2 separate regions of the Homo sapiens genome follow, and region 1 is linked to region 2. The links come from fine-mapping of genetic effects on gene expression. A gene starts in region 2. The other region holds a variant in brackets. All regions are shown on one strand. Distances are from middle to middle.

What was found. PIP is the estimated chance that this variant, and not a neighbour inherited with it, causes the effect. A credible set is the group of variants that fine-mapping cannot tell apart.
Region 1: its variant is the best candidate, but not a certain one, in a credible set for the expression of PCDH19 in prostate (GTEx, PIP 0.54).

What each region holds. Positions count from the first base shown.
Region 1 is chrX:100,621,921-100,626,307 of GRCh38, reverse strand. It overlaps LOC105373298 (a long non-coding RNA gene), which reads left to right and starts at 4,152. Exons shown (of 3, transcript XR_938469.2): 1 at 4,152-4,187. The variant A/G (reference allele first, on the strand shown) is at 1,946.
Region 2 is chrX:100,408,519-100,412,905 of GRCh38, reverse strand. It overlaps PCDH19 (protocadherin 19), which reads left to right and starts at 2,633. Exons shown (of 6, transcript NM_001184880.2): 1 at 2,633-4,387. The coding sequence starts at 4,309.

The DNA of each region.
Region 1 (4,387 bases), 210 kb before region 2:
CATTATGATTTAATTATGGTTTTTCTATTAGGTACCCTGACCCCATGGAGCTTAGTAGCATCAGGCACTTGTAAGAACACAGTAAATGCTAATGGAATAAATGAATGAATGAGTGAGTCTAATTATAATGGTCCTTTAATGTTCTGTGTGAAATAAGATGATCTCAACATCTCATTCTATGTAAGCCACCATTTATATAATAGAAACCACCTGCCCAGTCAGAAACCACTTAACCTCGGAAACCACAGCTAACTTCCTCCTGGTCAAATCGCTTTTTGCTGCTTCTCTTTCTTGAAGTCTTTGTTGCATTTGGTACCACTAAAAATATTTTTCTTTTTTTGTTTTGACTGTGTAACATCCTGATTTTCTTCCCTTTTACTGCTCTTTCTAGTTTACTTTGTTGTTTGAATTTCCTCCTCCTTTTCAAGTGTGGCTGACCCCAAGGGCTTGTATTTGGTTTTTTGCTCTTAGATTATGCCGACCTTACCTTGAGGAATTAAAGTACATGATCATCAGGCCTAACCTTTTATTCTTGGGACATGCACTTTAGTTGTGTGTTGGTCATAGCAGCTTGCTTATATTCCTACCCCTCTCCAATACCTAAAAGTTTAGTAGCATTCTGAACACTTAAAAATTTTTAAATATTCCTCCTATAACATCTAGCAAATGGAAGAGTAAGTACTTATTTGACATTGACCTACCTGGCTCTTTAATCAGGGATGACATGGCTTATGGAAACTGGGGAAAATGGGTCAGCTGTTCTAACCACAAGCATTTATCAAGTGCACATCAGTTCTTTGGGATTGTCATGCTTCATCTGATGGTGTTCTCATTACCATATCCTCAAAATTTTCATTAAAAAAAATGAAGTGGTGAGTTGGTAAGGCTCTTGTTTCTTCCAGCCAGTTTCTCACCACTTTTTTTCTGGGAAAACACAAACCTATTAGCAATGTCCACAAAGCAAATCAAACTGACGTGGCACTTGCCTGGATATAGACAATTCACCAATGGCTATATACAGCATATATAGCAGGGTAGACAATTACTCAGAATCATAACTAGAAAGGTAAAGTAGCTACATTATGTACACAGGGCAACCTAGGGTACAGCGTAAGAGATTCTGGACACATTTTCCTGTCCAGAAAGGCCATGTACTTCCTCAGCAGGAAAGTGGCAGATAAGGGCAGGTGCGGTGGCTCACGCCTGTAATCCCAGCACTTTGAGAGGCCAAGGCAGGCAGATCATCTGAGGTCGGGAGTTCGAGAGTAGCCTGACCAACATGGAGAAACCCCGTCTCTACTAAAAATACAAAATAAGCGGAGCGTGGTGGTGCGTGCCTGTAATCCCAGCTACTTGGGAGGCTGAGGCAGGAGAATTGCTTGAACCCGGGAGTCAGAGGTTGTGGTGAGCCGAGATCACGCCATTGCACCTCTAGGCTGGGCAACAAGAGCAAAACACCGTCTGAAAAAAAAAAAGTGGCATATAAGAGAAGATAGGCCATTTGAAAAGACTATTTCCCCCCTTCAGTTTCTTTTTTTTTCTTTGTGTGTGTGTGTGTGTGTGTGTGCGCGCATGTGTGTGTGACAGAGTCTCTCTCTGTCGCCCAGGCTGGAGTGCAGTAGTGCGATGTTGGCTCACTGCAACCTCCGCCTCCCGGGTTCAAGCAATTCTGCCTGCCTCAGCCTCCTGAGTAGCTGGGATTACAGGCGCATGCCACCACGCCCAGCTAATTTATTGTATTTTTAGTAGCGACGGGGGTTTCACCATGTTGGTCAGGCTGGTCTCTTACTCCTGACCACCTCAGCCTCCCAAAGTGCTGGGATTACAGGTGTGAACCACTGCGCCCGACCTGTCCAAATATCTTTTAATCAGTCCTTATTGAATATGAAATCTTCAAAGAGAAAACCTTCATGAAATAATATCCTATTCTCAGGAACGCTTTTAC[A/G]CTGTTGGTGGGACTGTAAACTAGTTCAACCATTGTGGAAGACAGTATGGCGATTCCTCAAGGATCTAGAACTGGAAATACCGTTTGACCCAGCCATCCCATTACTGGGTGTATACCCAAAGGATTATAAATCATGCTGCTATAAAGACACATGCACATGTATGTTTATTGCGGCACTATAAACAATAGCAAAGACTTGGAACCAACTCAAATGTCCAACAATGATGGACTGGATTCAGAAAATGTGGCACAAATACACCATGGAATAATATGCAGCCATAAAAAAGGATGCGTTCATGTCCTTTTAGGGACATGGATGAAGCTGGAAACCATCATTCCCAGCAAACTATCACAAGGACAGAAAACCAAACCCTCATGTTCTCACTCATAGGTGGGAATTGAACAATGAGAACACTTGGACACAGGGTGGGGAACATCACACACCGGGGCCTGTTGTGGGGTGTGGGGAAGGGGGAGGGAGAGCATTAGGAGATATACCTAATGTAAACGACGAGTTAACGGGTGCAGCACACCAACATGGCACATGTATACATATGTAACAAACCTGCACATTGTGCACATGTACCCTAGAACTTAAAGTATAATAATAAAAAAAGAATATCCTATTCTCTCACAATATGCCCTTTGTAGGGTGTTAGTATACAGTAAGTACATATTAAAAACAAACCAACCAACCTTGTTATTATTCCTCAGCTCCACAACATCATCGAACCAAGGGAATGATTACAAAGAGAGTTAATCGCAGTCTAAACATCAACTCTTTCCATTTTCTTTTAAGCATCTCAACAGTCTAATGCTTCCTAAAGTTTACAAACTATTATTTCCTATGTTAGTAAAGACACTCCACAACACTTAGTTGCTTTCATAACATAGTCCCATTTGAGTATCTTTAAATATTAAGTGAAACAAACAAGAACAAAAACACCCATGCTACACACTCACACATCAGGGCAGAATCACTCCTACTCTTCAGGCACAAGTCCAAACTCCTGCTTTCATTAAATGGGTTTGTTCGCACATGTGCACATGCATGCAGATAATCTATTCCCCTACAGAATAGAAGCAATTTCTGAAGCAGCCAGCCCCCCTTAGAGTGCCCCAGGGGATCCAGGGAGTTCAGAGCTGCACACTGCAGCTCAGGACAGCCTTGAATCCAGCCCAATCACAGTCTTGCCCAAGCAGAGCGAGCAATACAGGCCCTTCTTTCATGAAGTTTTCCGTAGCCTCCTACCCAACCCTTCTTGGCCTCAGCCCCATCTTGGGACTCTGACACTGGCAAGACAAAATGTAGCAGAAAACATGTCATGGTAATTATTTGAGAACTTGGCCCGAAGACACACATATCCCAAAGAACATGGAAAATGTAAAAATGTTCAGGGAAATTAAAGGTGTATAATGTAACAAATCAAAGATAACCAATGTTTTGATTTAAAAGTAGAAGTTTCTTATCTACAAAATGAATACATGAGTTATTAGAAAATGTATAAAAAATTCAGAATTCAAAGAAGTATAAAGTAATAAGTGAAAGTCTTGCTTTGCTGCCCACCCTCACTCCCACTGCCCAGAGAGGATCACTGATTAAAGTGCCTTATGATTCCTTCCACACATTGCCATATACATGTGTATCTGTACAAATTTTTCTTCCCACAAATGGAAGCCATGGTTAAGATCACAGACTCTAGAGCCAGACTGGCTAGGTTGGAGTTCCTTCTTTACCAATTACTGGTTGTGAGCTCTTTGGCAAGTCACCTAATCTATCTGTGCCTCAGTTTCCTCATTTATGAAAAGATAAATAATATTACTTGCTTCATAGGGCTGTTATAAGGATTAAATGAGTTGCTTATATGCCAGACACTTAAAACAGCGTTATGTGTCAGTCTAATATTTAAAGGGTCTTTATTGAGATATATTTTACATATCATAAAATTCAGCTCTTTTTTTTTTTTTTTTTTTTTTTTTTTGAGACAGAGTCGTACTCTATCACCCAGGCTGGAGTGCAGTGGTGCGATCACGGCTCACTGCAGCCTCGACCTCCAAGGCTCAGGTGATCCTCCCACCTCACCCCTCCAGTAGCTGGGACTACAGGCACGTGACACCATGCCCGGCTAATATTTTGTATTTTTTGTAGACACGGGGTTTCGCCATGTTGCCCAGGCTGGTCTCGAACTCATGGGCTCAAGGGATCTGCCCACCTTGGCCTCTCAAAGTGCAGGGATTACAGGTATGAGCCACTGTGTCCAGCCGAATTCACACCCCCCCTTTTTTTTTTTTTGTGATGGAGTCTCGCTCTGTCGCCCAGGCTGGGAGTGCAGTGGCGCGATCTCGGCACACTGCAGGCTCCGCCCCCGGGGTTCACGCCATTCTCCTGCCTCAGCCTCCCGAGTAGCCGGGACTACAGGCGCCCGCCACCTCGCCCGGCTA
Region 2 (4,387 bases):
ACGGTGGCATCGCCTTAGCAAAGAGGGTTTGTCTTTGCAAATGCAGAACATGTCTTTACATTGTGATTGCAATTATGAAGGTAATGACATTGTACATGAATTGAATTCTCCTATTTATCTTTAAAAGACAGCAGAATATAGACATTCTATTAGCACTCCCTAAGGTAAGAGGTCTGCAGTCTTCTTATCTTGTTGTGTGCATCTTTTCAGATGCTACGACAATGTTAATCATTTTACCTGAGTAATTCTTCCATTTCTCGTTACCTGGGGGATTGTTAATGGCCGAGACTACTTCTCAGACTCTTTGCTCCCGCTCAATCAAGCCGTGGAGGCGCCAGTTTACTTTTATTGATCAGTGGGTTCCTGACAGCCTTCGCCACAAGGAAGCAGCATCATCCTTTTTTAACTTAAAGGGGGAACAGATCGCCTTAAAGTTTACAGCTAAAAGCTTCTAAGCATAGCATGCAAACATTTTAGCATGCTGCTAATTGTTCTGTTTAAATAGTCCAAGCAATATTTTAGAAAGCTGCCAAACGCCGAATTCACATCCCGTGATCAGATAGCAAACCCATTTCAAATGCCTTTTTAGGCCTTTTTAATTAGACCAAGATGCACTTCATTCCCATGCTCTGACATCAAAGGTAAATAACTGTGATAAATCAAATGGAACCCTTCCTTTCGCGGAGCCCGCGAGGTGCGCCCACCGCTGCCTGCCATGTTGTCATTCTCTACTACTTGCCCATTTCTCCAACGGTGTCTGGAGAAAACCGGTCGGGCCACCGGGCTCCCTTGAGCCACCACTCTGGTGTCCACCCGCAGCTCTAAATGACCAAAATTAAATGATACTCATTGCAGAAGCATCGGTTTTCTCCCTGTTGTTCTGGGCCGAATCACATCCTAACGTGAAACAGTGAAACGACCCCCACGCGGAAAGCGGATCAGGCTCCCTACGCTCTCCCTTTGGCCTCGGCTACATATTCAGGGGATCGCAATCTCACTCGCGAAATAATTTCTTTCTGTAAGAGGAAGCCGCCTTTCCCCTCTCCCACCGCCAAGGTAAAGGCTGCTAAAGTAGCTCTTCTTGGAAGGAAAAATATTTTAAAAAGCAGCTGGGTTGCTCTCCACAAGAAGATGGCAGTTTTGAGAAAACCCATTATGTGTCCAAATGCCGGTTTCCTTTTCTTGTTTAACGCTTTTTAGAGGGCAAAAATGACGCTCATGTGAAGCCCACAGGCTCGAGCCAATGTCGCTGGGCTAATTATGAGTCTGCTTATCCCACTCCCAAATATCCGAGACGACTCACTCAGAAGACATTTTTACTCTTCCAAGAATTGTGAATTCAGAAGCAGCTTCCCCACATTCTAAGAGAAAAAAAAACTTGTTTAACGGGCACGTTTTTGATTTTTTTGCCGCTGGCGACCTTAATTAAAAGCCTCAGAGCCCGGGTGGGGAGGAATGCCCCGCTGCCCCCAGGGAGCCTTCAGTGCAGAAGGCAGGATGAGCTTGATGTCAGCCCTGGCCACGCCGGCCTCCCGCTTCCCAGTACTGGCACATGCCGCAGCCACCACCGCCGCCCAAGTGGAGCTGGCAGCCCCCTGGGACCGAGACCCCGCGGGAAGGCTGGGGCGCCCTGCACATCGGCGCCGGCTCCCAGCTGTCGGCGACCTAAGCGGACATGTATGGCGTGCCCGCCCCAGAGCTCCTGCCCGGCTTTGAGCTCTGCTGGCTTGGCGCGGCGCGGCGGCGTCCGCTCCACCGGCTCTTCTCAAACGTACAGTTTATTTATAGGGAGCTAAATTCTCCAACAGGGTGGGGTGAGGGGCAATGAAATGTGTCCGGCCCCCTCCGTAGCTCATTCTCTGTGCCACATATCCCATTTGATTAACAAGCAACAGACAAGAGCGAACCGATCCAGGGGCCCTGCTGGGAGTGCGGCACGCAGAGAGTAGTGCGGCGTCTGCCCGGGGTGGAAGGATGGGGGTGACGGTCCGGGGGGGTGGCGGCCGTGGCTCTGGCCTGATGTGAAGACACACCGGCTAAGAGCTGGATGAATGACCACCTCAGGGGCGCTTTCTCCTTCCCTTTCTTCCTTCCACTACCAGAGAATGAGAAGAGAGGAAAACAAAAACAGACGATTTTTTAGGGTGAAGAGACAAGGAGAAATAGAGGGATATATATATGTGTGTATATATATATATATGTGTATATATATGTATATATTATATTCAAGATATGAAGATATGTAAGGGAGGTAAACACGATAAGACAATCATATCATCCTCATCTTTCCTGAAATCTCTGCAAACATGAGAAGCGCACAGTTCCCGGCGAGGCTCAGCCGCAGCGCCAGCACACCGCCTCCCTGCTCATTCCTGCCCTATTGCTCCTGCCTGGCCTGCCTGGCCTGTCTGTCCGTCCTCCCATGAATCCCGCCAGGGCTCCATGGGCCGGGGTACCACTTGGTCCCGCCGGTGTGAAGTTTCCGCTTGGCCCCGCCCCCCCGCTACCCCCCGCCTCCGCTTGGCCCCGCCCCAAGACTGGAGCCCGCTGGCGGCGCGCTGATTGGCCAGGGCCTGGCGTAGCCGGGCTCGGCAGCTTGAGCTTTCTCCGGCTTTCTCCAGACTCCGCGGCCAGTAGTTTGCGGCATCCGGAGGAGCAGCAGCAGCAGTAGCGGCGGCGGCTGGCGCAGCGCGGAGACGGACGAGCGGGCACAGACGGCAGCACAGCTCCCGTGCACCATGCCTGGCTTGCCCGGGAGGCACTGGCACCCGCGTCCCTAGCCCGGCGCTGGCCCTTGGCGCGTTGCGCTCCGCAGCATTCCGGCTGAGCGATTTCATCCGAAATCCTAAACCTCCTACCCCAAACCCATTGCCTCCTGCTTGCTCATACTCCACACTCACACTCCCCACACCACACACTCACTCTTCCTCTCTCTCTCACACATTCACACACAGCCCGAGACAGACAGAGAAAGCGAGACAGACCTCCCGAGTGCGCGAGCGCCCGGGAGGAAGGGAGCCCAACGCAGCGCGGCCAGCGCCTCTCCGGGAAGATGAAATCAAGACGCTCCTGCAAGTAAACTTCGGCGGCGACAAAATCGTCGACTGTGGCAGCTGCTGAGGCGGACCCCAGCGACGTGCAACTGAGCTAGGAGGGCTTCCTCCCGCGGCGGCGGCGGCGGCGGCGGCGGCGGCGGACCTTGGAGCGACACCCCAGCCCAAACGGAGAGAAGAGAAGCACCCGGTACCCACGGCGGCGGCCCCGCCTCTCCTGGCCGGTACTGTTGTTGCCTCCCCTTCCCTCTTCCCCATTCCCCGCCACCCCCGGCCATTAGAAAGACCGGGGCTTTGATTTTCTTGGACAAATTGCCATCTCCCCGTTTCCACAAACTTGACGTGGAGGGTCGGACTGCGTTGTTAACTTTGATTTCCTAGACGAAAACGCCCGCAGACCCTCAACTGCTCTGTGGGGGGAACTCCGCTCCCACCTCGGATCCTGGACAGACGCGCCCCCAAGCCCTTCGAAGCCAGCCTTAGCGCGAGGGAGCGCGCTCAAGCTCTGGCAGCCTCTCTCCCCTCCCCCTTCCTCTGCTGGCCCCGGGACCGCCATCCGACTCAACCCTATAACCGGGTGCCCGCGGCGCTTGCCAGTAACTGACTCCCGTCTGCGACACCCCCTTTCTCCCGAACAGGCCTCGAAGAGGCCAGTGTGGCCCCCCCAGACCCCGGAGGGCGCATTCCAAGCGGGTACTCTCTCCGCAGTGAACTGGGAGCGCTGGGGGGAGGTCTTTGCGCATGCCAGGTGCACAGACAGCGAGTTCGCCAGCCTCAGTGCCGGTGCACCGCGGCGGGCCGGGCAGTGCCTGAAAGGCTGCGCCTCCTCCGCCCTCTTTACCTTCGCCTCAAGTACTGTCCGGACTCAGCGGTGCGTCCTCCAGGCCGCGCAGACGCCGCCCGACCCGCAGCCCTGGGCGGCTGCCGACAGTCGCGCCCGGCTAACTTTGAAGGGGTAAAACTGAGTAGCCGGGCTGGAGGGAGGGGGCTCGGGGCCGCGCGGCGCTCCCTTGGCCCCTCGGAGCCCCCGGGGCCCCCGCGAGCCCCCGCCGCGTCCGCCGCAACCTCAGCATTGGAGCCGCCGCGGGTGTCCCCCGCGCGCCGCCGGGCCGCCCTGGGCGGGACTTCTCCCGCGGCCTCCGGGGCCACGGGGCGCGCGCAACAGGCGGCCCGAGCCGGCGGGAAGCTGGAGCGCCGACGGCGTCGGTCTCGGAGGGGTGTGGAGAGGCGAGGCCAGGCAGAGCCCCGTGCAGCCATGGAGTCGCTCCTGCTGCCGGTGCTGCTGCTGCTGGCCATACTGTGGACGCAGGCTGCCGCCCTCATTAATCTCAAGT